2 separate regions of the Homo sapiens genome follow, and region 1 is linked to region 2. The links come from fine-mapping of genetic effects on gene expression. A gene starts in region 2. The other region holds a variant in brackets. All regions are shown on one strand. Distances are between the middles of the regions. Region 1 has its middle 110 kb from the start of MAGI3. Region 2 holds the start of MAGI3 (membrane associated guanylate kinase, WW and PDZ domain containing 3).

What was found. PIP is the estimated chance that this variant, and not a neighbour inherited with it, causes the effect.
Region 1: its variant is fine-mapped to the expression of MAGI3 in thyroid (GTEx, PIP above 0.99).

The regions. Positions count from the first base shown.
Region 1 is chr1:113,271,967-113,287,582 of GRCh38, reverse strand. No RefSeq gene overlaps it. Among named protein-coding and RNA genes, the nearest start is that of MAGI3, 110 kb to the left of the region's middle. The variant G/C (reference allele first, on the strand shown) is at 7,718.
Region 2 is chr1:113,385,579-113,401,194 of GRCh38, reverse strand. It overlaps MAGI3 (membrane associated guanylate kinase, WW and PDZ domain containing 3), which reads right to left and starts at 10,680. Exons shown (of 21, transcript NM_001142782.2): 1 at 9,846-10,680. The coding sequence starts at 10,161. RefSeq lists enhancers at 9,635-9,684, 9,735-10,234 and silencers at 9,915-10,074, 10,135-10,264, 10,675-11,034, 11,065-11,114, 12,104-12,348.

The sequences.
Region 1 (15,616 bases), 110 kb after region 2:
GTCAAAACAACAAGCTTCACAGGGAAACAGATTCTCTGTCCTATCTTCTTTGAAGACATTCTTCTCATCTCTTTTTCATCTGACTGCACACTGCTCATGTGGATATTAATTTGTGTCAAGCTATGCTTAAATTTTGAATGTGCCTCCAAATTTATATTCTAAGTGAAAACTCACAAATCTGAATATTGAAACTCATTAAATAATTAATTTTTCTAGGATTTCTTCCATTTTGAGAACAGCAGACTTTATAAATACATAAATATGAACTGAAGCTTGGAAATTGAGGCAGATAATATGTGTACAACTTCAGTGCAGAATTAGGGAAAAACCAATGCATTATGTTTTTAAAATCAAAATGAATTAGTCAAGAGGTTTACTTGAAAACAACATAAAAAAAGACTTTAACCTATCTTGTGTGTTCCACAAATTGTGAAATGGAAAGTGAATCTTCCAGTTATTATTTCGGAATGTTTTAGTCCCTAGAAATAGCTACAAATTAGACTCATTCACCACTGGAAAGCTCTGAGTTTTCTGCACTGCAATTCTATATAATTTATATGCTATGCAAATCATGCTCCACTGAATACCATCTAATGCATTTATTCTTCTTCAAAATTAGCTAAACACTGCCTTCTCTTCTGCTAAATCAATCCGCCTGCAAAGGCAGTTGTAAGGATACTTCTCTGACAAGTGCTGTTGCTTCTTAGCTTCTCTTTGCCAAAAGGCATATGACTGGACAATGGTAAAAAATCTGTGGGGCCTCATTTCACAAAACCTAATTTAAAATCTGTATGATGCTAAAGGTGTGTAGAAGGAAACATGAAAGAATGGAGGCCAAGTTTCCTGGAGGTAGAGGTAGGGACTTGGGAATAGACCACAAAAGTACAGAGCCTAAATTTACTTATGATTTTATGAAAATGTTTATGAGAAAATTGACTTAATCCAGAATAGTATTTCTCATCCCTCATTACATTCTAATCATCATCTGCACTTATCGATATTATTGGAATAACTCCGTTAAGATGTGTTGGAGGGCAGTCATTCTAAATCTCTGATTTTCAATAATGCTATTTGATGAGAAGGTGCTGGCATAAACAGAGGATCATTTACATCTTTAAGCCCAGATATGCTAGGCTCAGCAGCTACTTCACTGAGAAACATAAGGGATCCCAGTATAATCCAAGTAGGAAACAATCAACCCTATTATCAATTCTCATGTTGTATGGAAGCCATTTCCCTCCCTCAGGCCCTCTGGGACTCCCTGTTTATGACTTGGAAGTCCAGAGGTCTTACCAGAAGGAATGCATTCCGTGAAGGAGCAACATGCAACAGGACCATACATTTGAAGTGTTGGGCCTGGGAGAGACATCATTTCATGGACTCCATCCATTTGTCCCATGTCATGGAGTAAGTAGCATGACTTAGTGGACAATTACAGAGGCTCTACAGACAGAGTTCAAGTCACCACCTTTCTATTTAAGCTGTGTGTGCTTGGGTAAGTTAAACTTTCTAGACCTCAGTTTCCACATTTGTAGAATGGACATAAGATAACTACCCACATCACAGAACTGTTCAAGGCTTAAAGAAAGTAAACCACACACAGTGGCTAAGAATCAGTGTTCAGGAAATGCTAGTTGCTATTAACTGTCAGAGTTGCCTTGTTCTCTCCCTATTACCAGAACTGGGATGACTAATTTGATTTATCTAACCCAATGAATGTCTCACCTTCCCCTATTGTAGAAGTCCTTTGAAAGGACCTTAAATGCAATTGTATATTAAATATCTAAGCAGAATCAATATACAGGCCTAGACTTCTGTTTTTTTTAAGTTTTTTGTTTGTTTGTTTTGTTTTGTTGTGTTTTTGAGATGGAGTCTCGCTCTTGTCACCCAGGCTGGAGTGCATTGGCGGGATCTTGGCTCACTGCAACCTCCACCTCCCAGGTTCAAGTGATTCTCCTGCCTCAGCCTCTCAGGCAGTTGGGATTACAGGCGCCTGCCACCACACTCAGCTAATTTTTGTATTTCTAGTAGAGACGGGGTTTCACCATGTTGGCCAGGCTGGTCTTGAACTCTTGACCTCAAATGATCCACCTGCCTCGGCCTCCCAAAGTACTGGGATTATAGGCGTGAGCCACCGCGCCCAGCATTAAGTATATTTTTAAATTTTGGTTTTTTGGAGATAGGGTATCACTCTGTTGTCCAGGCTAGAGTGTAGTGGTGCCAGCATGGCTCACTGCAGCCTCGACCTCCTGGGCTCAAGTGATTGTCCTGCCTCCTGAGTAGCTGGAGCCACCATGCCTGGCTAATTTCACAATTTTTTGTAGAAATAGGGCCCACCATGTTGCCCAGGCTGGTCTCAAACTCCTGGGCTCAAGCGATCCTCCCACCTCAGCCTCCCAAAGTGCTGGGATTACAGGCATGAGCCACTGTTCAAGGCCTATACTCCTGTTTTTGAAGTGGATTTGGTTTTACAGTTGGGGTAATGCCTCAGTGCACAGATTATGCTTCATTGGTGCTAATAAATCTATAAAAGTTTTATATCTCTGCTCTGTATCTGTAAATCTCTGACAGATGTTCTTCCTGGTAATGAGTTTGCCTTGACATCTTCCCAAGTAAATCTCATTTTTAAGAAAAGAAATGATGTAGATGTTTAACTTAATGTGATAGATTTTTATAGTAATGGTTGTCAATGGATTCCACCACCTCAAACCCATGCATTTGAGTAGTGCCCTCCCACATTGACTTGGGCTTGGCCATATGACTTGCTTTGGCTGATGGGACATTAGCAAATTTGACAGAGGCAGAGGCTTGAAGCATGCTTGCCCATTGGGCTTGACTCTCTCTCTTGTTGCCAAGAATTTTTCTGGGACCATGTGAAGAAACCCAAGCAAGACTGCTGGAAACAATGACCTAGCCAACAGCCAGCATTAACCCCCATCCATATGAGTCAGGCCATCTCAGACTATCAGATCCCATCTGACTTGTTAGATGATTGCAACTGCATTAATGGCTTCAGGTGAAAATAGCCCCAGAAGAGATCAGCAGAGACCAGCTGAGTTCAGCCCCAACTGTTGACCTACAGAATAATGAACATATAAAACAGTTGTTGTTTTAAGACATTAAATGTTGGGATGGTCAAAGCAATAGATAACTAATACAATTAAAATTAAAATTTACAGATACATTGGCAGTTATTTATGTCTTCCCCTTTTCTGTGTTTCCAGCAAAGGCATTTTACTGCATAAAAGAATGAGATTAATGTGTGGCAAATCCAGAAAGCCCACTTATTCATTTTAGTTGATTTTGGATAAATGAGAAGTGAAGTGGAGTCTGTGCAATTTTCAAAAAAGTGTGGCAACAGAACCTTCACCTGAACAAAGTGAGAATTTCTGAATGGCAGGAGAGAGATTTGCTGGCAGCAAGGACATGCTGTGCTCCTAGGAATAACTCTCTGACATCATCTTGTGTGTTGCAGCACCAATTCTTCCTCCTGACACTTAGCATGCATGACTACACTGGCATTTTCAGCAGTTTTTGAAGAACATAGATTTTCATCTGGCAAATGGATGCAGCCAAGTGGTCAAGTAAAATCTGGGGGACACAGTTAAAAAGAAAAATGCCTGCACAATGTATATTTATGACAAGGAAGTGAATGGAAAATGAACTCTGAAAGAATCTGAAGGGCTCAAAATAATAATGAGAAACAAAAGAAATGGATGCATTCAGAGCAGAGGGATAATACTAAAGCCTCTGACTTCTATGTGGTTCTGGCCCACATCCAGGGCCTTTGACCCATCCAGGTCCAAATAAACAGCTGTTAATACTCGTTAACTTCCCCAAACAAACAAAATGCAAGCGGACTTGGAAGATTAGGTTGGGTTCTTAGATTAAGGTGACACCAAAACTGTCAGGATTGTGGGTGGCGAAGGTGGGGACATACTCTAAAATTTTCAGGATTCAGTGGAGAAGCCCAGACTCAATTAACATTTCTTACAGGAATCAGAAATGAGTATCTGTTGAATACTTTGTTCTGGAGGAGAAGACACTGTGGGGATTCTGACTGATGCTGGTGGTAACAAAGAGAAGAATGGAAGGTAAAGGAAGAAACCCAAATGCGAGAAACGGCTTCATTCAGCTGTCCTCAAACAACTGCTATATATATATAACTTTTTTTTTTCTTCCCCTAACGGGGACTCTTCTTTGAGATGGAGGAAGATTTTACCTTGGGATGCAAAGGCTGTTTTTAAATCTTAATTTAAATATTACATAAGGTCGCAAGGTCATTTATTGGTTCCCCACCCCAGGATTCACTCTCCCTTCTCATGGTGTTATAGTGTACTTCAATTCTGCACAGAGACAGCTACCCCTCCTCTCCAGGAAGCCAGTGCACTTACAGCGAGATGCTGGTTCCCCAGGGCAGGCACACGACCTAGATTAAGCCGCCACCGGCACATTTTAGCTGCCCGAGGGGCACGTGACCCCACTGAAGCCAATGAAATGCGATAGGCTTCTGGGACTGAGGCAGACACTTCTGCTCTACTGGAAGCTGAGGGCTGGCACCGCCATTTTCTACCGGGGCACTTAGATTCTGCAATGAAAGCCAAAAATATGGTGAAAGACAACCATATAAGGTGAAACATAGAGCTCTGAATCCAGCCACATCTGAAACTATACTTACCGCCCTGGACGTTTCATCTACACAGGCCAATAAATTTAATTTTTTTGCTTAAATTGATTGGTGTTCTGTTTTCTGTCACGTGCTACCAAGAGAGTACTAACTATGCATGCTTATCACATTTTTCATCTATGAAAATGGGAGAATTCTGCTAGAAGATATCATAAATCCACAGCCTATAATTCTGACTTGAAGAGAAGAATGGGGGAGGAAGAGCCTTGTAGTATTCTGAAGCAAAACAGTTGTTTCCAGAGAAACTGCCTCCCATGTTTGTAATCAGTTCAAAACAATTTATTGAGTGCCAACTGTACTTTAAGCACATGTTATTTCTTTCTTTCTGCATCACCATGAAAGGTAAATGTATATTATCACACTGACTGCCATTTATATTATGGGTTGAAACGTGCCCTTGAGCATGATATTGCTATTGTGATTAGAATCTAGTAGCAGAAAAAGCAATTAAAGTGAGACAAGTGCATTATCATCTTTTAAATAGCATTTGTTGGACCTGTGTGAACATTGTCTATACCTTTTATAAATATTGCCCAATACTGTGTTTTTAACTAGAGTTATGCAGGCATAAAATATCCTTGGCTTGCAAATTTTCTATTAACTTGAACATACTGGGAATGCTTAGCAGCAATGAAGTGCTGAAAATGCCAAAGAAATTAATGGCTTTGTGCTGTACTACTGAAACATGTCCGCTAATATTTAAAATTCCATGTCCCAGGACATCACTTATATCTGCTGACTGAAGCTGAATGGCCTGGAATCTGCTGGGTGCATCAGGCCATTTCTCAAGTCTCTCTCTGTTGGGCTTTTGTTTCCCTCTCTCTTCCATTTCTATTTTCCCTCTCTCCATCCTTTTTCCCTAGCTCACCCCCATTTTTCTGGGATTAATTGAGAATGTTATTTATAAGAGACTAGAAGAGAGTTATACATATGGAATAGGATATGATTTATCAGGATTTATTTCAGATTTCTTAAGTTTAAAAAAGGTACTAAATATCCATGTCTCATTTTAAGTATTCATATGAAGTCAACATTTATGGACCTTGAAATCCATTGTTTTCTGTGTCCTTGAGAGAAATTTTACAGGCCTTGTGCAAGGTTTATGTGTTCATACATCAATGTCACTGTACTCTGAGGTTCCCTGGTTCATGCTGTCCCTCAGATGATGTCTGCCAGAGAAAGCAGAGTGTCTGTGCTAACCAGGCCATGGCAATGACCTAGTTGAGGACTCTCAGTGTAACTTTTGTGTGATCTCTCATCACTAGAAGAACTAGTACATATTATATTCCTTGCCATGAAAATAAGGGTATGATTTTACATGGGTAATTAGTCAGTTCATGTATTGCTTACATGCCTAGTCTGGGTGGTTCTCATTTTGTTTCTCCACAAACATTTGTTAAGTACCCACTCTGTGCCAGGCTGTGAGACAGGCACAAGAAAAATTTACCTGCTACTCAACATCTCCTTGTCAATGGTCTACAAGTGCCTTTAACTTAACACATCTGCCACTAACCTCATTACTTACCCCACCCAAACAATAGAAATGACAACAACAGCAGCAATAGCCAAAACAACCCAGTCTTTCACCTCTGTATTTTCTACCTCGATGAATAGGGTCATGCGTACACTACTAGTCTCTTAACCTAAAAACCTTAGTGATCCATAGTCTCCCATTCTCTCCCTCACTCACCATATCCAATGGTAGACTAAGTCTATTTATGCTCCCCCTTAACATACCTCAGGTAAACAGACCTCTCTATCCCCATTAGCCTAGCCTTTGTCCAGACCCCTAAACTCTCTTGGTGTCTCTCCCTCAAGTGTCTCCAGCTGCGATTTATTTACATGCTGCTGCCAGAGTTAATTTTCTAAAATACAAATCTGACCATGTCACTTCCTTACTTACAAACCTCCCTTGGCTTCCTACCTACCTTGTAGGATCAATTCCCATATTCTTTGCATGAAAAGGTGCTTATAATCTGGAAGCTGCCTATTTTTCCAGGCTCCTCTCCTGGTGTTCTTTCCCACATCTTGCTCTTATCTCACCAGGCTTCACACACACCATACATGCCTCTGGACCTTTGAACATGGTGTTCTCTGCCCCTCAAAAGCTCTTCTCTACTTCTCTACCTAAAGAGCTTTTATTTTCTACTCAACCTTCAAGAGTCAGCTCAAAGTTCCCTTTGTGAACCAATTTCTCTAGTTGCTTGTCATTGCTCTTCTCTGTGTTCCCAGAGTCCTCGAGGCATATCTTTACTAGCTCTTTCATACCCAATTGTGACTATTTGTCTACATGTTGATCTATACTATTAGCCTGTGAGCTCCTTAATATATCTTGTTCTTCTCAGTATCCCCAGTATGCAACACAGCACTTGGCTTTACAGTAGATACTCACTTGGTGTTGTGTGGAAGGTAAAGAAATATAAGGCACATTTCCTATCCTCTCCCTCCCATCAGAAAGGTAAGATAAGATATACACATTATTTGTGAAAAATTAACTAGCAACGGGTAGTAGTAAACAGGTTGGTGGGTGGTATAGTCTTACTGATTTGGGAGAAATAAATATTTGGGAATGGCAAAGTCAACAAAGGATTTGATTTGGATCTTGAGAGTTTGCAATTCAGTAGGTAGAGAAGGGGAGGAGGAAGGAGAAGAGAAACATTATTAACTAAAGTGCAAAGGCAAGAAAGTGCAGGGCATGCTCAGGGCTGGAAGGTGGGGTGGGACCAGGCTGTGGAGGAACAAGAATGTCAGGACATGGACTTTCTCCCATAGGCAACTGAAAGTTTTTGATCAAGGAGGTAACTGTTGAAAATGATATTTTAGGATTAATTAGCAGGTAGTATACAGGATAAACTAAAGGTAGAAAAACAAGTTAGGAAGTTATTGCACAATCCATGTTTGCGGGGGCGATGAGCTCTCATCCATGGTGGTGACAAAAGGAATTAGAGGGAATGGGTAGAGTGCTGTCTCAAGAGTGCAATTGAATAACCAGGGCGACTCCTCAGCTAAAAAGAGAGAGACACAGACACA[G/C]ATGACCCAGAGATTTCAAGCCAGGGAGGAAAAAAAAAGGTAACTTTTGCAAATAAGAAAGTCAGTGAAAAGACTATAATTTGAGAGGAGATAGTGAATTTTGTTTGAGACTGGTTACATTTGAAAGAACTGCAGAATATCTGAAAGGAAATGTCCAGCAGGGAACTGGAGATTACAGACAATATTGTGTAGTGGTCAAGAACATGGGTCTAACCAGACTGGGTGTGAATCCTGGTTACACCAGTTATTAGACAGGTGATTTTAGGCCTCTGTTGCTGCATCCATAAGAGGGGCATAATTACAGTCCTTATCTCATAGTGTCGTTGAGATGATAAAGCAGATAATGCACATAAAAGCATACCTCACACACAGTGTCTGGCACACGGTAAGGGCTCAATAAATATTGGCCATTATTATTAACTAAAACTGATAACAATTTTTAGAGTGCCGAAAATATTTTCATTTAATTTTTCCAACAATTATGTAATGCAAGTAATGCTATTACCATTCCATTTTAGAGTGAGGAAACAATAGCTCAACAAGGTTAATTGATCACGTAACAAGTAGGAAGCAGAACCAAAATTCAAATCCAGGTTTTCCAAGCCAAATCTTCCATGTTATTCTTTTTAACTTGCTGAGTTTGATTTAGTTTGGAGGACAAAGGGTGTCTGTCATACAACCTTCTAGCACTACCAAATTTTAGGACTGGGTTTTGACATAAGGTTCTTATTGTCACAACGATAATCTTACCTGAAATATACCAAAGCTATCAAGTTCAGCAAAGAATAAGAACTTTTTAGAGAAGGGAGTCATTAAAGGTTATTTAGATTCTGCCAAGTTTTTGTTGAGCGTAGGCACTTCAATGCCCACTCCATCCCTACCAACCTTCCAAGGCTCTAGTGTATATTCAGAGACAAGTCGTCTCCTTTAATTTAGAACACAAGATGCTAATAACCGTCTGATACCTGTCTGCAAGACTCTCACCCGGCTGGAACAGCTGCCCATAAATCTCACACTTCAAGTGATTCTTCCAACATTAAAAAGATGAGGAAATTTTGTTGAAGATGAAATTGATGATGAGTTTCTGCCTGGTAGCTGTGAAAATGGTTATTGCTGACCCCTTTCTGTCTTTGAATTATTGCTTAGCTTTCTGTCTGGACATACAGAAGGAAGAAATCTTTGGAGATGTTGCCAGATAAAGCTGACTTACTTTGGATTCCTGAACAAACAGTAGGTCTAAGAATAGACTCCAAGGGGAGACACAAGGGAGCTCTGTGGAACCATAAGAATTGGGCATATTGTTCACTTTTTCCAGTAACGCCTTTGATTTAAGAAGTGAATAAAGTTATGGCACAGTGCCATGGAGAATAGGAAAGAGCACTGGAGAGGTGATAGGCACTTTTGAGAAAGTTCTTTTCTTAAAAGAATTTAAAGAATGAGTTGGCCAAATCATGTTCTTCCACCAAGGCATCAGAACAGGAGACTGGTCTGTTGGTTTTATCATGAAAGGTGGAGACAGAAAATTTTGAATTCTAATCCTACCTTGGAATGCTGATTCCATCATGGCCAAGGGCATTTTCTATTATTTCCATGCCACTTTTCCCACATCCATAAAAAGGAATTAATCAAAGGTGTTGCTAAGATTTAATTAATTAATACTGTAAAGTGCTTTGAAGATGAAAAGATTATAAATATCTACAGTTAACTGCTCTTTTATAGTTAAAGTTAACAGTAAACCAATCACATGGTCCCCAAAATAGCTTAGGGCAAATGAAAGTGGCTTAGCTTTGATATGTACCTTTCCCTGACATTACATTATAGTTATTACAGTTAGGGGGAATAGTTACAGATATTACAGTTAGGGGGAAATTGCTGGGGCCCTATTCTTGGTCTTTTCAGGATTTTTTATTGTTATTGAAAGGAACAGAAGTAAAATAGTTTGTCTCCATCAGGATAAGAAAATTAGGAATTGGGAAGCCAAGGCAGGAGGATCATGTGAAGCCAGGAGTTCAAGACCAACCTGGGCAACATAGCGAGACCCCACCTCTACAAAAAAAAAAAAAATTAGCCAGGCATGGTGGTGTGCACCTGTAACCCCAGCTACTTGGGAGGCTGAGGTAGGAGGATCGCTTGAGCCCAGAAGTTTGAGGTTACAGTGAGCTGTGACCATGCTGCTGCACTCCAGCCAAAAAAAAAAAAAAAAAATCAGGAAACCTAGAGAAAAATAAAAACAGATTCAAGTATTCATAGTGTCCCCACCAGGATAATTTGACCACGAATTCACAATGGCAGTGGGGAGAAGAGAGAGAGCGCGCTCACAAGTGTGCTCCTGGGCCTTCCCAGCCACACACGCAAAAAATAGCTTTCCTCAGATCAGAGTTTTGTGTGTGGTGTTGTTAAACAGATAACAGAGAGAAGTGGAAAGAGACTGTGGTGTTAATTAGACTGATTCCAGGCATACTTCAACACTTTCCAGCTGTGTGATGCTGAGCAAGTTACTTTTCCTTTTGGAACCTTGGTTTCTTCCTCTGTGAAATGGGGATCACTCCTGCCTCCTAGGATGGTGAGGAAAACAGAAATAATTGGTGTGAAGTAACTGGCGGATAGTTCTTCCCCCACTTCTTACCATTATTTTCATCCTATTTCTTTTCTTCCTTCAGCCTAGATTTTCTTTCTCATAAGCTCCAGAAATACCAACACGTTGAATTACTGTTTCCAATTCAGAGCTGTTGGGATTGTCCTATTTGCTTTCCATGTTTTCAGTGAAGAATCATGAGGGCTGCATCCCACCTATGAAACAACATTCCATGGGAGGAGGCCTTATTTTCAAAAGCCAAGGTTTCTCAGGGGGAAACTCAAATTTAAAAAAAAAAGAGAGAGAGAGAAAAAGACCTTGGATTATTTTTCAAACCCCAGATTTCAATGCAGCTGTCTTTCTATTCCACCATCTTGCAATTGACATCCTGTGTTTAAATTTCTGAGAAGGATAGTGATCTAAAAACATAACTATTGTAAAGGAGAAAAGCCTGAAACTGCTGGGTGTGTGCTTTTTCAACTGTTATCAAAATGACCAAGAACCTCTCCTTTGAAGTGAAGGAGCTCCAATAGGCATCCCTGGAGGCTTTTGTGAGATAGCATTATGTTTCCGAAAGTTCCCAGAAAAAGCCGTCATTGAGATTCACAGATTCTGAGAATGGTTAGAGCTGGGGAAGCTGGGGGAGTGTGGGGGTGAGTTTAGAGATTATGCAGTGCTCCCCTGCCCTAGCCTATTTCTCTGATAGATACATTGAGTTCCAGATTCCCAAGAGACGTACACGCAAAATATGTTAGAATCATCCACCAGGCAGGTAAATATCACTCAGCAATCTGCCCACTCAAGAGCCAGTCTATCAATGTGTGACCATTGCCATAGGAAAAAAAAATCACCAGATAAACAGTTACAGCTACTTGGATGTCTAAAAAGCATAGAAAGGGCAACTTTAAAAATAAAACTTTAAAAAAGTCACCTTCAAATCGGGGACAGTGGATTGGGTGAATCCTGAAGATTTTTTCAAGGTAGATGAGACAAGGAGGTCAGGAAAGGATTGTTGATTCTAACAAGTGGATTGTTGAGAGTTCATCCACCTTTTCCTCTCCTGGCTCTCTTCGTTAACATCCTGAATGCTGTCACCTTTGACATGTCTGAGTACAGAGGACAAAGACATGAAATAAGCAGAGATAGATACTGTATATTTTTAATACTTTGAATATACCCTTTATGTTTGGCCATACAGAATAACAAGCTTGGATCAGTGTAGTTTTTGTTTTTGTTTTTGCCAGTGTTAACCTGCTGCACCTTGATTTATAAAGGAATTAATTTAGAGGAAAGAGAGAATGCTGACATCTTTGCTATCAGGCTACCTATTTGAGCTTCAGGCTACAAGCAGGAAGAAAGCAAGCAGGCAAGGATGTCACGCCCCTCAGATGTCCTGCCTTCTCTGGAATGCTTCACCATGAAATGAGGATTGAGACAGCCTAGCTACTTACAGTCTCAGCTGTCACCAGAGAAAGAGCATGTCTGCCACTCATTGCACTTATGAAGATCAGCAACCTCTAGGGTTCTTCAACCTGAGTTCAAGGCAGGTATGTGGCCAAGAGTAGGAACATTCGAGAAGAAATCCATAGCCAGATTCCATTTCACCTTCCCATTATCCATCTTCCAGTCTATCCCAAATCCTTTAACCATGAGAGAAAGAGAAGGCCATGCAGCAGAGCCTATTGCTGTGATTTTAGCAAGATCTTTCGGGGCTTTTCAGCCCTTGACTCCCTTGGCTAAGGTGGGGTGTGGGGGTGAGTGCAGAAGTGGGTTGTTCCTGGGCAATAAGTCTCCCTTGGGCTTGTTACTCCACAGATGAAAAACACAGACCCTGACCAGATCCTTGATGTAGAATAACTTCCTGTTTTGCTCCAATATCTTTAGTTTCTGTATTTTCAGAAACAAGATGAGTTTTTTCATTATCTCATTTCCCATCCCTGCTCAGCTACACTGCTCCCACCAGGCACCATCTTGACTCTCTGCTTTTATGCATATGCTCCTCCTGCCTGGGACTTCCTCTCCCACCTCTGCACTTAGCCAGTTCCTGCTCATTCTTTGGGTCCAGCTGAAACATTACCTCCTCTAAGAAGCCTGCCCAGTTATATTTCCTTTTTCTGTGTCCCACGGAATTCCATATCTATTCCTTTTGAAATAGGCATAATGGAAACATTTATTTATGTGTGTGTGTTTCTCACTAAATTCTGAATTCCCTGAGGATGTGAACTTTGATATTCAGTTTTTTTTTTAAAAAATTCTGTTACTAGCACACTCTTTGGCATGTAAAATACATCCAATAAATGCTTCTAGAATAAAGAAATGAGTGAAAAAAATCTCACAGCCAGAAAAATGGGAACTGACCAACAAAGAAAAATATTTTCTACAAATACAAGAAAAGAATAATTACTATCCATAATATATAAAGATTTTTTTTCAAATTAATAAGAAAAAGATGAACATACCAATGAAAACCAGGCCAAGGGCAAACACTAACAATGAAGGAAGAAATACAAATAGATAAGAAAATTTATGAACAGATTTCAACTTCATTTACTAACAAACGATGCAAATTAATTTCTCTATCAACTTGGCAAAGATAAAAAGATTAAAAACAAAAATTAAAAAGACAAAAGCAAAGTTGAAAAATGTTTACTGTTATTGAGGATCTGGTGAGATATGCACTCTGATGAGTAAAAAATGTAATCTTCCTGGAAAGCACTCTGGACATGTGTACGTATGTGCCAAAAGTCTTAAAAATGTTTATACACTTTGACCTATAATCCCAGTTATACAATCTATTATAAAGAACTAACTAGAGATGTAAGTTAAAATCCATGTATATGTATGACATTCAAAGAAATGTTTATAATATCCAAATTGAAAATAACATAAATGTCCAAAAATAATAGTTAAAAATTAGTCCCATAAAATACAGTGTCATACAGCCATTAAAAACATGTTTTTGGCTGGGTGCGGTGGCTCACACCTGTAATCCCAGCACTTTGGGAGGCCAAGGCGGGTGGATCACGAGATCAAGAGATCCAGACCATCCTGGTTAACACGTTGAAACCCCGTCTCTACTAAAATTACAAAAAAAGGTAGCTGGGCGTGGTGGTGGGCGCCTATAGTCCCAGCTACTCGGGAGGCTGAGGCAGGAGAATGGCGTGAACCTGGGAGGCAGAGCTTGCAGTGAGCCGAGATCGTGCCACTGCACTCCAGCCTGGGCAACAGAGTGAGATGCCATCTCAAAAAAAAAAAAAAAAAAAAAGTTTTCAAATAATATGCCATAGGATACATAAGAATATTCCCCACATAACATTATGAGAAAGAATAGAATGCAAAATTGTATCTTATGTTTCTAGTTTTATCAAATGTAAATAGCTAGATGAATAGATAAGTCTGCAGAAAAATACTAGAAAAATATATACTAACATACTAACTGTAGTTATATCTGAATGAAGAGAATTATGGATGGTTTTTATTTTGCTTTTTATGATTGTCTTGTTATCCATGTTTTTTACAATAAGCTTTTCTATTAGGACAAAAGTGAGCTTTTATACTAAAACTAAAAAAGAACTACAACAAGATATCACTACACACCTACCAAAATAGCTAAACTAAAAAATACTAAAACCAAATGCTAGTAAGGATGCAGAGAAACTAATCACTCATCCATTACTAGTGGGAACGTAAAATGGTACACCCATTCAGAAGAGAATATGGCAATTTCTTACAACATATGTACTTATCAAACAACCCAGCAACTGCACTCTTGGGCATTTATCCCAGAGAAATAATAACTTATGTTCACACAAGAACCTATGCATGAATGTTCATAGCAGCTTTGTTAATAATAGCCCCAAATTGGAAACAACCTAGATGTCCTTCAGTGAGTGAATGGTTGACTGTTTAACTGTGATACATCTATTCCATGGAATACTACTTAGCAATCAAATGGAACAAGCTATTCATACATGCTATAACTTGGATAGATGTCAGGGAATTATGCTGAGTGAAAAAGGTCCATCTTGAAAGATTATGTCCTGCATGATTCCACGTATATGACATTCTTGAAATGACAAAATTATAGAGATGGGGAACAGGTGAATGGGTTAGGAAGGAGACGCAGGAAGAAGGTGCCTGTGCAGGAGGGACCTTTGTGATGGAACTGTTCTGGGTCTTGACTGTGGTAGTGGTCACACAAATCTGCACATGATTAGAAATGCATAGAACTAAACACACATACAAATTAGCATGTGTAGAACAGTTGAAATGTGAGTAAGGTTGGTAGATTATATCAATGTCAATTTCCTGGTTGTGATATTGTACTTCTTTTAGGCAAGGTATTAACATTGAGAGAAACTGGGTGAAAGGCATAGGGATCTCTCTGCATTAGTGTTTACAACTGCATATGAACCTACAGTTATCTCAAAGAGTTAAAAAATAAAAGAAATAGAAAAGATTGCAATATGTGCATCTGATTGGGATCCTGATTCAATCTACAAAAACACACGACACTACAGATTTGAACGGGGGCTCAATAGTTGATGCTATTAAGAAATTGTAGGATTGTAGGTTTTTAGTTTTAGATGTGATGATGGAGGTTATTGTGGGCATTTTTTTAAATCTGTCCTTATCTTTTAGAGACCCAAACCAAAATATTTAGGGATGAAGTCATATGAAGCACTTACATATCTGTAAGTGCTTCAAAACAATGTGAACAGACCAGGCGCAGGGGCTCATCATGCCTGTAATCCCACCACTTTGGGAGGCCAAGGTGGGAGAATCACTTAAAGCCAGGAGTTAGAGACCAGCCTGAGCAACATGGCAAGACTCCATCTGTGCAAAAAATAAAGTTGAAAAAAAACAACAAAACAAACTAGCTGGGCATAGTGGTGCATGCCTGTAGTCCCAGCTACTAAGGAGGCTGACACAGGAGGATCCCTTGAGCCCAGAAGGTAGAGGCTGCAGTGAGCTGCGATTGTGCCACTGCACTCCAGCCTGGGTGACAGAGTGAGACCCTATTTCAAAAAAAGAAAAAGCAATGAGAGGCAATTCACAATTGCAAAATTGTGGAACCAACCCAAATGCCCATCAATCAGTGAGTGGATAAAGAAACTATGAAAAATACATATGATGGAATACTACTCAGCCATATGAAGGAATGAATTAACAGCATTTGCAATGACCTGGATGAGATTAGAGACTATTATTCTAAGTGAAGTAACTCAGGAATGGAAAGCCAAACATTGTATGTTCTCACTGATATGTGGGAGCTAAGCTATGAGGACACATAGGCATAAAAACGATACAGTGGACTTTGGGGA
Region 2 (15,616 bases):
GCTGTGTCAGTTCATAATTCTTCCTGTGAGTCTGTGTGAACTTTCACGTGTTAATCTCTCTAACTCAATTTTCTCATGTGTAAAGGAAGATGATAATATCTGACTCATAGAGAATAAAAATATATAAAGTTCTTTATAAGAAAACATGAATGCTAATATATACATCCTTATAAACCAAATAAGACAGGTATAAAATGCCCTGACATGGAAGTTATTACTCTAAATGACAGCTAATATGTTGTGATAAGTCCTCAATATTCCTATTAGAGTAAGGTTGTCTAAACTTAGGGTTGTCACCCAAGGGAGGCTGAAGTGTCATTTCAGTCATCAGCATTACATTGTGAGATTGCTCTAGTTAGCAAATCTAATTCTATTCAAAGGAAATTAAAATTTTCACTAGCATGTGCATTCTAACTTAAACACTGAAATTAGTGAATAGAATTCTTAGCTAAAATTAATAATATTTTGACAAAGTGTTCTGCTGAAAGCTACCAAGTTGGATTGAGATACAATTCTGTGAACAGAGGTAATAAAGACTATATCATTTTACTAGATTTCATGGCTTAATTAATCAATATATGGAATTAATATTGGAGAACTCTAATTATTACAGGCTTTTGAAGTAGAAGCAGTAATTTTCCAAATATGGTCTAAAGTCATCCGAAGGGTGCCCAAACTAATCTAACAATACAAAGTACTTGCTATGATGATTCTTACTGGCAAATCACACCCAATTCCATGAATGTTCATTTTTATGTACAGTAAGTGCATTCACCAATAATCTACCAACATTTAATATTCACTAAAGATCCAACTACCAGATGACACTTGGCAAAACTACAAAACTCCTACTGTGCATGGCATATATAAACTCAAAGTTATTACTAAAATTATTATTTTTATGGCACCAAAGCTGAAGACATTGATACAGTAATAGAATATAAAAATAGTATGAAATGTTATTTGGAGCACCCACCCCTCTCTTTCAACTGTCTACCCCTGCTCTGAGTACCTCTGTTCTCCCAGTGGAGGCTATAAAAAACTTTAAAAAGGGGATCAGATTTTATCCTGCAATATCTGCCAAATAACATTTTTGGTAATTAAACAGTTACCACATGACACCATACTTAAGTAATGTTTCAAAACTCTTATATACCCATTTTATATAAGAGTCAGTGAAGTAGTTCCTTTCACATAATTTCCACGAAATCATGGTTAAAAAGTATTATTAGGGAGCCCTCAGAAATACTACAATAATGACATTGTCTCAATTTGTGTTTAAAAAGACCATTGTTTTAAAAGCAAAACACCTTGGAAAGTAATTCGTTTAGAATTTCATTTTCAAAATGGTAGAATAAAATTGTTTTAAAAACGTAATTGTTTAACTAGGCTAATAATATTTTTCTCAATGCCAAAGACTGTTAATCTTCCAAAGTATTCCATCTCCCTAAAAATCAACAGCATTGATTTTAGAGAATCTTATTTAATTTTTTTAAAGAAAATTAAATAAAAATTACAAGAAATACTTTTAAATTGTGCACATTAAGGTATCAGTATTTCAATTTTTTAAAGAAATAACTTTTAAATAAAAGCAATTTTTTATTTAAATATTTGAGTAAAAGCAGTGCCTAGAAATCAAATCAGTTTTGGTTTACAGCCAATATCTGTTTTTCTAAAAATGATAGTTTTATGACAACTGTGTACTACTTCTGGCCTCCAAGTAAGAGAGATTAAATGTTTTAAAAGAGATCATTTCCTGTAGTATTGATTCCTCGGCATCCCACCCTTTCAGGAACTCCCCCTCCCTTACGTCTTGGGGTTCTGCTACAGTTATTAATCATATTATGCTATTTATACCCAGCTGCAAGGGTAGACATGTCCCCACGCCTGACCAATCATGGCACTTCATTGTCCTCTCCTCTCTCTACAATAATTGGTCCAAGAGATGGGCACAGGGCCAAAGTCCCTGCATGAGATTTGTTATTAGACTCCAAAAAGATGAGAAGCTTTAAGGACCCTGTATGACTTCGGGGTTCAGAGCTACCTTCACCGCTACACTGACAGTCTAGCTGAGAAAAAATCCAACCCAGAAGAAAAGAGAACCAAATAATAATTCTAATGACCAACACTTGAGAACAGAAGTTAGCTGTTACTGATCTATGCCTGGATTTTAATGTATGTAAGTCAATAAATTTCTTCTTAGCCTACATTAATCTCAACAGCGTTTCTGTCACTTGCTACAGAATTCTTACAAATACAGAAACTGATATGTAAATTAAGATTTTTTTCTTTCCTGCTGAGATCTAAGCTATATATCACAAGATACTTGCTGCAAACTAGATAACCATATCCAAAGAGTAATATATCTCTGGAACTACTCCATTAAAGTGAATTTTTAAAAGTTATTTTATTGGAGGAAAAAGCAAAGCCAATTTAGCTTAATTCTATTTAAGTTCAGAAAATGAAGCATTAATAAATACTTGTTTTTTTCCTACCTTGTAGGATATTTTCCTTTCATAAAACTACTTCTGTTAAATGCCATTATGTATAGTAAAATCCCATTTTTCATAGTCATGTGTAATTCCCAATCAGAACAACGAGATACAGGCTTGCCTCTCACAAACTCCCCTGAAGCCAGAAAATAATAATTACGTGTTTCAAATTATGTGCAAAAAAACCAGCAAAAGCAAAGAGGCTAAAATGCCAGAAAGTTTTAATTAAGTAGATCGGTTACCGTTCACATTGTATACCCAAGACAATAAAAAGGGAAGCCTCCAAATAGAAAAGATCTTAATTATTAATAAATTTGAAACAAAATTTTTTCCAATTACCACTGCATGATATTTTTTAAAACCAAACCCTAAACTCCAAACAAATTATGGCAAAAAAGTTTAACCCTTCATAACCCATACAGAGTCTCTAAAACAATATCTCTCAGTATGTGTTAATAAAACAAGTACCTAATCACCTATAAGGACAGCGTGTCCTTTCTCAGGTATTTAGATATGTCATAAGTCAAATTATGGTCCTCAAAATGTAATCTATGTTCCCCTGGCCATGTTGGGATGACTGAAATGGGTGGGGGCTGCAGGTAAGTGGGTTGCTCCTGGAAACCACTGCAATGCAGCTGAGTGGCTGCATCAGGATAAATTGCTAGGGTTCAGGGAAGAATGGAGATATAATGATGCCACCCTTCTCACTGGAAGCCAGTCGGCTGTGGCTGTAACAAAAGGGAAGGCGGGATTAAGATGAAAATATATTTTTCAATTCCCTTTTTCCTAGGCTAGCAAATTGTGTTTTCCCATAAAACTGGCTAGACTTCCAAAACAACAAAAATAGGGCTATTAACCATAAAGAACAGAACTAATGGTACATTAAGGGTTAAATAAAAATATTCATAGTATAACATTATGAGTGGAATGAGGCTGAAGGCAGAAATAGCATTAAGCACCTTAGAGCATTATTTCGAGGAGATAACACATTTAAAAAAAACTTACAGGAGACTATTCATAATGGAACTACCTATACATTTAAACAATTAATATGATCTTCCCTCTATTTTCCAATTATTCTATAATGTGGATTTTGTGCCCTTGTACAAAATAATTTCCAATTATTCTATAATGTGGATTTTGTGCCCTTGTACACAAACACACACAAAATTATTGAGATGGACCACACTGTAAACCTTTCTGTATGGAACGTTTTTGCCCTGTGTTTTTCTCCTCCTCTGCTTCTTACCTACTACTGGAAAGATCCTAATTCCACTCAACCAAAATCTGTCATCTTTCAAAACCCAAACAAGTTCAAAATTATTCACAATTCATTCCTCAACCACTCAAGTCAGAAAACAAGGGCAGATGGCGTGGATCCTACCAAGATATTAAAAAGAAAAAAAGAAAAGAAATCATTCTTTCACTTCATGTACACATTTAATTTCCATAAATTCACTGTACATACCTAGATGAGGATAATTTCTTAGAATTAAAAGTTTTTTTGTAAAACATATCTTTTTAATGCAAGCAAATTACTTCTTCTGGTATTCGACCAAAAAACTGCAATTGGTTCCAACATGGGTGGAAAAGTGGCATTTGGACTCATCCTACAAACAGTACAATATAGTATTTTATGCACAATTTAAGGGCTTTTTGAAAAGACAGTTTTGCTTATATTTGATTTCCCTCTTTTTGTGATGACTTGAGAACCCAAATCCTTTCTAAAATGCAGCTCCACTACTTTTTCGAATAGCACACTATGCAGCCAGTTAGTCTCATTTTCACCAAAATTCATACTAAGACCTACCTAAAGAGTTTTAAACACTGGCAGAAAAGTGAAAAAGGCAAAACCCTTACTACAGGTATTCCTTACCAATGAGTCATTAAGCTCCCACTAAACTGCCAGCTTCTTGAAGACACACAATTTCTGACTCATGTTTATATCGCCAGTGCTAGCTCCATGCTGGCACTTGGTGGGTGCACCACTAAGTATTTGCTGAGGGAATGAATGCGTGCCAGTAATAGGACTTCTTATTTTTTCTGTATTAAATAAAATATGCATCTTTTCTTGGAAAACATTCTGAATAATAGTTGTTCTTCAAAAACAAAATATTAGCAAGATATTTTGTTAGCAAAATTAGCTAGAAGAGCAATGAATGGATTTGCCTCTTTCCCTACAAACATGTCTCATAACACCAGCTTCTAAGTTTCTGAAACTCTTACTTTAGACAATAGTTTTAAATTCAGGGCATTCACTCTATCTACCAAAATGTAGTATTTCAAGAAAATTATTGCTCAAAATTTCAGAAGACAAAAAATAATTTATTAAAGGCGAAACGGTTCTAGTCTTCAATACCAAAACACTTATCTTTTGTCAAATCACACACACACACACACACACACACACACACAACCCTGACATTCACAGATTTTGAAATTGGTAAATAATACTGAAGTAATCCATAAAAACAAGATTCTCTTTCAACATACTCCCAAAACACTAAGTCCCCCCAAAAATTACAAAGCACTTAGGGGTTACATAGTAAAGACTCTGTATGAAACTATCACTTGAGAAGATTAGGCACTGACTTCATAAGTCAGACACTTGAATGAATTTAGAAGATTTGTTTTGTCGCCAGTTTACATAAATTAGCAGAAAAAAAATCACAAAAATTTGTCTCTCAAAACAAAAGGTTTTATAAAGTATGTGCCAGGATCTCAGAGGAAAAATAATGTATACGTCCCAGGAACACAGAGTTATGTTACATGAAAATCAGTTTTAGCAATAAACTGAATAAAATTTAAAATCATCTAAAAATCAAATGGCCAAATGTTAAGTATTTGTTTGTACCAGTAAGATAGCAAGAAATTAAAGAATTATTAAAATGCCTCAACCTAGGAAAATAAAGTTTTACAAACTAAATTATAAAAGTCTGGGGGTGAGGGCAGGATCAATAAAGTACCCAAAATGATATACTAGAAAATGATATACAAGAAAAGTTAACAAAAGTATGTGTGTGTGTATATACATATACATATATGCATATAATATATATATACACACACGTATATACATATATACATACTGAGATATTTGGATATAGTACTCTTAGAGAATGATGGAGAGAAAATATTTTTTAAGTACAAAGATGTTAATGATATAATAAAAGTCATCAAATATCATGCAAGCAAATCAGCTTGCAATTGCTAAGGTGTAAGCCCATTACTCATATGAATTGAAGGTGTCAATGAACAGAATCCAAAACCTGAACCCCTGAGTTATTAAGAGCTTTAGGGAAAAAAGAAAAAAAAACTACCAAAATTTGAAATAGGAAATTTTCAACTTCAAGGTTTATCAAAATGTAATGCTACTTTCCCTAGCAAAGGGGCTTGGCTTGCTTCTTTTTCTATTGTTTCTAAAATAATCTCTAGGTCTCTAGATTTTCTTGTTTTAAAAAAGGTACGAAGAAATGTATTGTAAGCCTGGGAGGCTAACAATTAACTCTAAATTCTCTTACCTTTCCCATCCTCATATAATACAACCACCTAAACAAAACTCATCAAAAATCCTAAATATCCCACTAAAAAAAAAAAAAAAAAAAAAAAAAAAAACTAACAAAAAGATTCAAGAGATAAGAAAGGCACAGCATTATTTTTATTTGAATAACATAAATATTTCCTATTTTAAAGCATCCAGTAGTGTTTCTTCACCAACAGGAAGTGTATTTCTAGGAATTAGCCCATTTTAACAAAACTCCCTTACAAATTGGATGTCCCAAAGAGTCAGCAGTGAAGACTTTTACCTACCTTTAACATTACCCAGGAACTGTTTCAACTTGGTTTTTATTTAAACAAACTATAACATTGTTTCCTATGATTTCCATCCCTGGATACACTACTTGCTTAGGGTAGTTGAATGTAATGTGTGCATATGGCAGTAGACAATGATTTCATGTATTTATTGTACCGATACTTAATCTCTGGAATAAAATACACATAATTTACTGAAACTTACTGAAAGCAAACTGCTGAAATATGAGCTTAAAGGTGTATGAAGAAGCATAAAACTCTGCACAATTAGAGTCTGGGGAATTTCAGAACAAAATTCACTACTTGTATATTAATCAGAATAGAAATGGTTTAAGAATATATACTCTGTAGTAAAATCAAAGAAACTAAACCTAGTCATAGTAGTATATCACAAAACAATTTCACCAGAGGTCCAAAGTTCAACTTTACTACTGGGAAAAGACAAAGTTCAAACTCAAATGACAACTTTTCTCTTTGCAGAAAAATAAACAACAGGGTCATAATTAAGAAACAAGTAACTAATCGAGCCAAGCAATAGGTGAAACCAAAGATTCTTCTATAAGCGGGCAAAGTACTGACTACTAAGTACTACACTAAAACAATAAGAAACTACCTAATTGATTCAGGAAAAGCTTCAGATTAGAAACCATATTTTAAAGAGTAACTTTCAATTCTCTATTAAAGATTATAACAACAAAAAAAGGGAAAAAAAATCAAAGCTAAAGACAGTAGCTGCCAGAAAGATGTTAAGTCACCTGGCTGATAGTACTGGCTTTGGGAGGGCGACCCTTAGCACCTAAGTGAAAAGAAGGCTAGGAAGAATCAGTGCTACAAAAGCCATGTTCTACAACCCAGCTCATCCTTCTGCCATGGACTTTGTCAGAAGACAATATGAGAACATTTCCGATTAGTATTACATCTTACAAAAATGGTTAAATTTTACTCTTTCACTGTGCTAGTCTCTAAATGTCATGTTATGAATATGGTTTAATAAAAAGCAACTAGTCAAGACAAGAGAGTGCTAAGTACACTTTACAATACCTTATTAAATTGAAAAATCAATTTCTGTCACAAAGTTTAGATAAAAGCAAAAAATAAAACAATGTTTATGGCAAGTTTCTTTTTAAATTCCCTTACTCTATTTTCATCCTTTCCAAAATGAATCACAATAAAGAATCTTTGTCTCTTCTGAAAATAATATTTGTTTTTAATCAAACTCAAAAGTTCTACAGATAACCTCTTCAAATTCTTAATTTCTAGTATTTAAAGTCTGTTTAACCTGCAAAAATCTTGCTATTTTATAACAAATGTTGCTTTTAAGCAAAGCCATTTAAGAAAGCCATTTAATATAATACCTAACATGAGGCTATTAAGAAGCTAAGAATACTATTTTTAAAAGAGATTAAAAATTTTAAATTACAACCTGCTTAGAAACAATATTAATCTCAAATAACACAGACATAATGGTATCTTGAGAAATTACTGACACAAAGTGTCTCTTCAAAAAACAAGTGTAGTATTCAGAACTTTATTACTAATGACTACAAAATGTTCTGTGGCCATTAATACGTTATTCCCTTTATTTTGGCTAAATCTTTAAAATAGAACAGTGTCTGTGGCTGTCAAGAGGGCAAAACTGTATTACTCTAATAATGTCAACTACATACGGGGGCATAGGATGTTTATTCAACACAGTTAATATTACTAATGCTCTAAATCTTGAATTATTGTTAAATATAATATAGAGGTTGAGAAAAATGTATAACAGGTAGATTAGACTAATGTTATGAAATAGCCATCTCTTCAGTCTTCTAAAAAAGATCACAATAATTTAGAATACACCAGCTTCCATGTCAATATATCAACTTTAAAATTTCTAAAAATAAGTTATATTCTCATCTATGCCCTAACGAATCAAAACAAAACACAAAGAAATGATGCAGATGTTCTCACTATTCACTAACTCATGGGATTTGAACTAAGATTTGGCAGCTAGACTAGTAAATGCTGTCTATATAGCCTTTTGCATATTACAGACAGTGCCTGACTAGCTGAATTACAGCCCCAAAAGTCTTTCCTCTGCCTTTCACACATGGCTGTAAAAGTTAGAGTTAAGAAAAAAATTTACAAATTCTCAAAACTATACAGAAAAAGCTGTTTAAAGTCTGCCAAAGTTTTAAAAAATTAACAACAATAAAAAGAAAACCTCACCACATAAACCCATACACTTAAAATGAATACGATGGAATACGCTATAGAAAGAAAATCTTAATTATGACCTTAGGAGCATGTGAGTCTGTGTGTATACATATCCACAATACACAGACATATGTAAACTGCACCACAAACCATCAAGCCCCATTAAGCTCAAGGACTATTAAAGATATATTAATATTTCCAAAGCGAGCTGCTGAGAAAGAAATGAGAAGGAGATAACATATTAAATTTTTATCCAGAATTTTCTAGCATTTTGCCATCAAGGGATGGACTGCTACCTAGCCCAGGTAACAATTAACCAGCCCATTATATTTTGATGCACCGTATACTCAGCAGAGCACATTAAGGAAAAACAGTTTGGTTTCTAATAATGTTACAATCACAATTCTCTCTCCCACAAACATCTAAGACGACAGAACCACATTCTATCTATGCTGAAACAAAACCAACAATGCTGTCTATAACAAATTCATAAGAACTACTACATACTATCAGATCTCACTGTATGCTGTCTCTGATCAATGCTTTGAAACTGACGAGTATGCCATAAACATAACGTGCTTTGCAGCAATTTTTACTAGCATAAAAGATACCAGGGCAACAGAGGCTCCTTTAACCTACCACTTCAACAAAATTCTGTAAAATCAAAAGCGTTACAGAAGCTTTCACTCCGCTAGGCACCTAGGTCTTCCTGCAAAACCCAGACTCTATTCAACAGCTCCCTGCAAGAACACACCAGTCTGCCACATATCACATATTGTACCGTCATCGGTACTCAGACACCTGAACCACCTGGACTGACAGAGTTAGGCTGTCAGCTCTGAGATGTCTGCTAGAGTGCAAGAAACACTGAAGCAGCTAAGCCCTTCCAGGTACACCAGGTGGTAACCTTGGCACCAAGTGCCTCTATAGTAAAGTCCCTTTTTCCCTGTTAGAAGATGCGTAAGATCGTTCCAAAGAAAATGTTACAATCCTAAGGGCCTTTTTGCACAACACAGGAAAAGGCTGGCCTTCTCTAGTCAAAAACTCTTGTCTGCGGGGGGAGATGGAGCTACAAATGTAGGAAACCCAGCTTCTAGTCGCAATTCTGTGACAGCTAGCACAGCTAGCAGAGCAACCGCGCCAAGCCAGAGCTCAGTTTTCCCTTCGGCAAAATGGGACTCACCAACGCCACCCCTCCCCCTCGTCAAGGAGTCTGGCACACCCTAGAGGTCTAAGATTACCCGGGACAATACGCGGTGGGGAGGTGCCGCCGCTCCCAGGACGCCCACCCTGAAGCCCCTCTCCCCAACACCCCGAGACAGATACGCAGGGCCGGCGTACCTGGTTTCACAGTCTTGAGACGGATGGGCTCGCGGAAGTGGCGGATGACAGCCAGGGTGTCCCGGTTGGTGAGCCCGCTGACAGGCGTCCCGTTTACCTCCAGCAGCACATCGCCTGGGCTGGGCGCCTTGCCCGAGACGACGCAGCAGGTGCCCCCGCCGGGCTCCTCGCGGAGCCGCCCCAGGTAGGGGAACTCGCCACGCTCCGCGCCACCGCGGATCTCCGCGCCGAAGTCGCCCGGGGGCCCGGCCCAGGACACGGCGCACTCCTGCACCTTGCTGAGCCAGTGCTTCTTCTTCTTCAGCGTCTTCGACATCCCGAACCCCGCTGCACCATGGGGGAGACCCCGCGCGGGCGGCCGGGGCGCCGCTCCGGCCCCGTCTCAGCCCGGGGGCCCTGGGCGGCCCGCGCAGCCCGGTAAGGGGGGCCTCGCCGCTCCGGCCCCCACCCCGCGACCACAGCCCGCTGGGGGCCCGGCCGTTCCCAGACGCGAGACGCCCCTTGGACGCCCCTCCCGGCTGCGCTCCCCGGGGCTGACCGGACTCCGCGAGGGCCACCGCGGGTTAGGCTGAAGAAAGGAAAAGGGAATTGTCCCCAGGAGGTTCCAGAAGGGGCTTCGGGCGGGGTCACTGCCGCCGGCTGGTCCCTGGGCTCAGCGCCCGAGCGGCGGGAAAGGCTGAGGCGGGGGGGCGGGGAGGTGAAGGGGGAAGAGCCGGGAACGGGAAAAATCCGTGGGGGGCGCGCAGAAGCGCGCGTAGACCCGTCGCGGGATCGATCGTGGCCGCTGCGGAGCTGTAGCGCGGAGACCAACGCCTGCCCAAGCTGCCAGGAAACTGCCGCTTTCAAACCAGCCGCAACCTCCTCCTCCTCCCTTTTCCCTTCCCCCGGCCCTCGCCCATCCCTCATCCAGAGCCCCGCCCCCTCCCGCCGCGCGGCGCCCGGCGCGCTGCCGTCACAGGCTGGGCGCTTGGGAACGAGCCCCGGCCCTGGACTCTCGCGCCAGGGATTGGCCCCCGGCGGGCAGGAGGCGGACCGCCAACGAGAATGGGGACCACTGGTTGGTCGGTGCGAGTGGAGGAGGCGGGCACTAGAATGACTGAAGTTTAGAGAGGGTGGAAAAAAGAAGTTTGGAGAGTGAGGGAGGGCGCAGAGGAGGGGCAGGGGAGTGGAAGGGGCTGTAGGTCGCAGGGCCGGGAGAGGCCCTCTGCGCGGCGGCTGGAGCCGAGGAAAACTCGAATCCGAGAGGGACCGAGCTCCCCGAAGTGGGGGCGTGGCCGGCGAGTTAGGCGGAGACGCGGGCGGAGCCTCTGAGCCTGTGCGGGGCGCAGAGAGGGGCCGGTGTGCTTAGATTGGAAGACAACGTGCGGAGTCCTGAGCCGGCCGAGGTTCCGGGGCCTTTAGGGTGGCCTGTTACAGCCGATAGTTTGCATTGAGTGGATATTGCTTGTTCATTCGTTCATTCAACAGATGTTACTGAACGCCCATTGAGGCAGGGCTTCGGAGTCCGGTTGATGAAAGATATTATAAAATAGAGTCCGGCACTGCTGTATGACCTAAGACAAATTAGACAACCTCTCTGAGCCGCAGCGTCCTCAGTGAAAAGTGAAGATTACAGAAGATGTACAAAATAACTGCATAGTGCCTGACAGTGGGTGGTTGCCTCTTAAAGTTTGGTAGCTGCTGCTGCTGCTGCTGATGACGATGACGATTTTGTGTTAGATATTGTGCTAGGTACTGGGATTCAAGGGTGAAGAAAACAGAAGCCCCGCTATTGAGGAGGTTACAGTCTAGTGGGAGAGACTGAGAAGTAAGCAGACTGCCTGAGGTGAGGGAGTGGGGTGGAGGTAGAAGGTGGATTATTAAGAACTAACCTGGTAGCCAGCAGATCTGGTTGGAGTCCTGACATGCTACTTACTTGCTGTTTGACCTTGGCCAAATCTCAGTTAAAGGAGGTGAAGGGAGAACGAACATTAAATAAAAGATATCGTAGATCCCTTCCAGCTCTAATTTTTCAGAAATTTCACTTGAGCTTTCTCTCTTCCCCGGCTTGACTTACACTCTTCCCTGTCTTTGGAATGCCCTTCATCTCATCTCTTTTAAAACTCCTATCCGTCCTCATCCCAAATGCCGGCTCTTCCAGGTAGCTTTCTCTGATTTCTTGCCCTCAAGTGGAAAGTGTTTTCTCTGAGCTATGATCTTTGTTTCACTTTTGCAGCATGACATTTATTTGTGTAGTCTCCTGTCTCCCTTTAATAGTAGGTGAAAGCCCTTATAAAACTCCACACCTCAGATAGACTGGACCAAGCTTCAATAGCTGCAGTGATTTCGTTGACACCATTGTATCAGTCAGGGTCCTGGCAGGAAACAAATGGCATTTTGCAAAGATGTGGGCAGGGTGTGGGAAACCACAAGAGAAGCTGGAACCCTGAGGCTACAGCTCCTAGATCTGTCCAATCGGGAAAGAACAGTTACCGAAAAATCCAGACACACAGGGCCACCTGACAGGAGTCTGTGACCTTCAGTCAACGGATGCAGTCAGCCTAAGTAAACACCCAGCAAAGGACCTGGGGGATTTATATCTAACTCACCACCCTCCTCCAGTCTCCTGCTGGTGCTTGTCAATGGCCAAGTCCAACCAGACGCCAGAGGGCAAGGGAGGCTTTTGATATAGTTCATATCAGTCAGTTTCAGAAAAGGAAACAGTGCATCTGAGGGGAAAATATTCAGCACAGACACCATGTGGATGGCTCAGATTTAACCATATCTGAGACAAAGCTTGGAGTATTTTTTTTCTAAACTACTACCTATACTAATGGATTCCTGGATAAAATCTCCATAACCTACACATCATCTGTTTTTGCAGGAACTCTGGGAAAACATCTTTCTGTGTCTAGATTGCATCTGTTAGAATGCCTTTGGCCTCAAGGAACAGAATATTTGGCAGTAGCTTAAAGCATGAGGTCATTTACTATATCTTCAATATAAATTTCAAGTGCAGATAGTTTCAGGGTTAGTTGAGCAGTACAATCATGTCATCAAGGACCCAAGCTCTTTTTTGTGTTTGCTCTCTGCCATCACATGCATGTGAGCTTTTGTCTCCAGGTTTGTCACCTCTTAATTGCAATGTGGCTGCCATAGCTCCAGACATCACATCCACAGAGGTCACTGCACAGAGCAGGAACGGAAGAAAAGGAAGTGCTGTCCCCCATTTTTATGAAGGAGAAAAATATTTCCCAGACTTTAGAATCTTCCTTATTGTCCAGAAAATGGTCATATGCCACATCAGACCAGTCACTGGCAAAAAGAGATAGGATTGGCCACAGTTCATTAAATTGATCACAAGTCACCCCTAAACAAAATGAGTGTTCTGACTGAGAGCAGAAAAGGGGAAATAGTTGCTAAGTAGGCATCCAACAGTGTTTGCCACATGCCTCAACCATGAATAAGTTGTATTCATTCTTGGGCAGAAAACTGCAGTGGTTCAGAGCTTGAGCAAATCAGACTGCAAATCCCAGCTTTTCTACTTACTGCAAATCCCAGCTTTTCTACTGCTAGCTCTGTGATCTTGAGCAAGCTATTTAACCTTGCCTATCCTCAATTTCCTCATCCACAAAATGGGTTTGATGACAGTGTTTACCTGAGTTGTTGTGAGAACTGTATGAAGCTATTTGAGTCAAGTAATTTGAGTCAAGCTATTTGATAACATAGGATGCAGCATAGAGCAAACAGTAAATTTTTATTTTAGTTTGTGCTAAATTGTACTATCTTTGACAAAGCTAAAAACATTGTATTAAATTCACCCATCTTAGTAAGCTTTGGTTCAGTTTTTAAAATATTCTAGAAATAAGCTACCCATGCTATTGAATTAATTCTGGTAGGATATTATTTTGGCAATTATTACATAAAGGGGTCATATTTTAAGCTTCTATCTCTAAAATGACACCTAATTAAATAATCGTATTGTATTCATGTTTATCACGACTTTCCAAAAATAATGGTTGGTTTAATAGTTGTGATTTCCATTGGGGAATATTAATAAACCAAACAACATGGAACAAAAATAATAAAAATAAATGAGGCAATTGAATTTGGTGATCTCCAAGGTTTCTTTGGGCTATCCCTATCTAATCTATCTAATCTATAGAGCTAGAGATAGCTATGTGTGTTAGGCCATTTTTGTGTCATTATAAAGAAATACCTGAGGCTGGGTAATTTATAAAGAAAAGAGGTTTAGTTGACTCACAGTTCTGCAGGCTGTACAAGCATGGCGCTGGTATCTGCTTGGCTTCCTGGTGAGGCCTCAGGTAGGATTCAGTCATGGTGAAAGGTGCAGCAGTGGCAGGCACATCACATGGTGAAAGTGGGAACAAGAGAGGGTGGAGGTGCCACACACTTTTAAACAACCAGGTCAGGTGTGAACTCACTCATCGCCAAGAAGACGGCACTAAGCCATTCATGAGGGATCCGTCCTGTCCCCATGATCAAAACACCTCCCACCAGGCCCCACCTCTGACACTGGGGATCACATTTCAACATGAGATTTGGAGGGGACAAATATCCAAAACATATCAATATGTTTCACTATGGAAACTTTACAAGTTCAGTCCCAAGATGGCTGCAGAGGCTCCAAGTATCACATCCACACACAATAATGGCTAAAGACTGAAAGGAGGGAAAAGGATATTTCCTTTCCTCATTTCCTTTTTGTAGATCAAGGAAGCCTTTCCCCGAAAGGCCTCCAGCAAGACTTCTCCTCTAGCTTCTTGGCCACAGTTTCCCAAATTTCCTTTACTAAATGAATCTTTGCCAAGGGTAATGAAATATCTTATTACTTATCCAGTATCACCTCTGGTACTCTGAAGGGGGCCCTGCCTCTTGGCTGCACAACATAGGGACAAAACTTGGCGGGGAGGGGTCTCTTAGTAAATACAGGGAGGGGAGATTAGCTTTTGGGTAAGCAACTCACAGTGTCTGCCACGTGTACACTGCATTGATTTGCTTCTAATAATTTTTTTTTAAGCAAGGTGGAAAGTTTGTTTTGTTTCATAATATTGTGCCTAATGTTTCTAATGACAGTTAAGTAAACCCACTCCTGACCGTGCACGGAGGCTTAGGCCTGTAATCCCAGCACTTTTGGAGGCCAAGGCAGGCGGATCACTTGAGGTCAGGAGTTCAAGACCAGCCTGGCCAACATGGTGAAACCCTGTCTCTATTAAAAATACAAAAATTAGCCCGGCATGGTGGCAGGCACCTGTAATCCCAGCTACTCAGGAGGCTGAGGTGGGAGAATCGCTTGAACCAGGGAAGCAGAGGTTGCAGTGAGCCAAGATTGCACCATTGCACTCCAGCCTGGGCATTGCAGTGAGGCTCCATCTCAAAAAACCCACTCCTTTAAGTAGAAAACTTCAGAGTGGAAGTATAAATTTCCCATTTTTGGAAGTGACCCATACTTAGTTACTTCTTTGTACAATCAGGGATGCCTCATATGGTGGTGCAATTCAGAGTCTATGTGAGTAGTGCCCTGGAGTTGTTCATGGCTCTGTGCCAAAGCAATGGAGGGGCAAATGTTAGATTTCGTTTATATTTATATTCTCACTAGTTTCATGGAAACCTGAATTTCTAGTAAGAATAAATCAAACCATCATTATGTAGATGAAGTCATTCTCAACTATTGAGGTGGCAGAGGGTGGAGAAGAGGTGGAGTGGACAGATGGAACAAATATGCGCCTTTTATACAGAATATAAGAAAATGTGTCCTGTTTTTTTCCCGC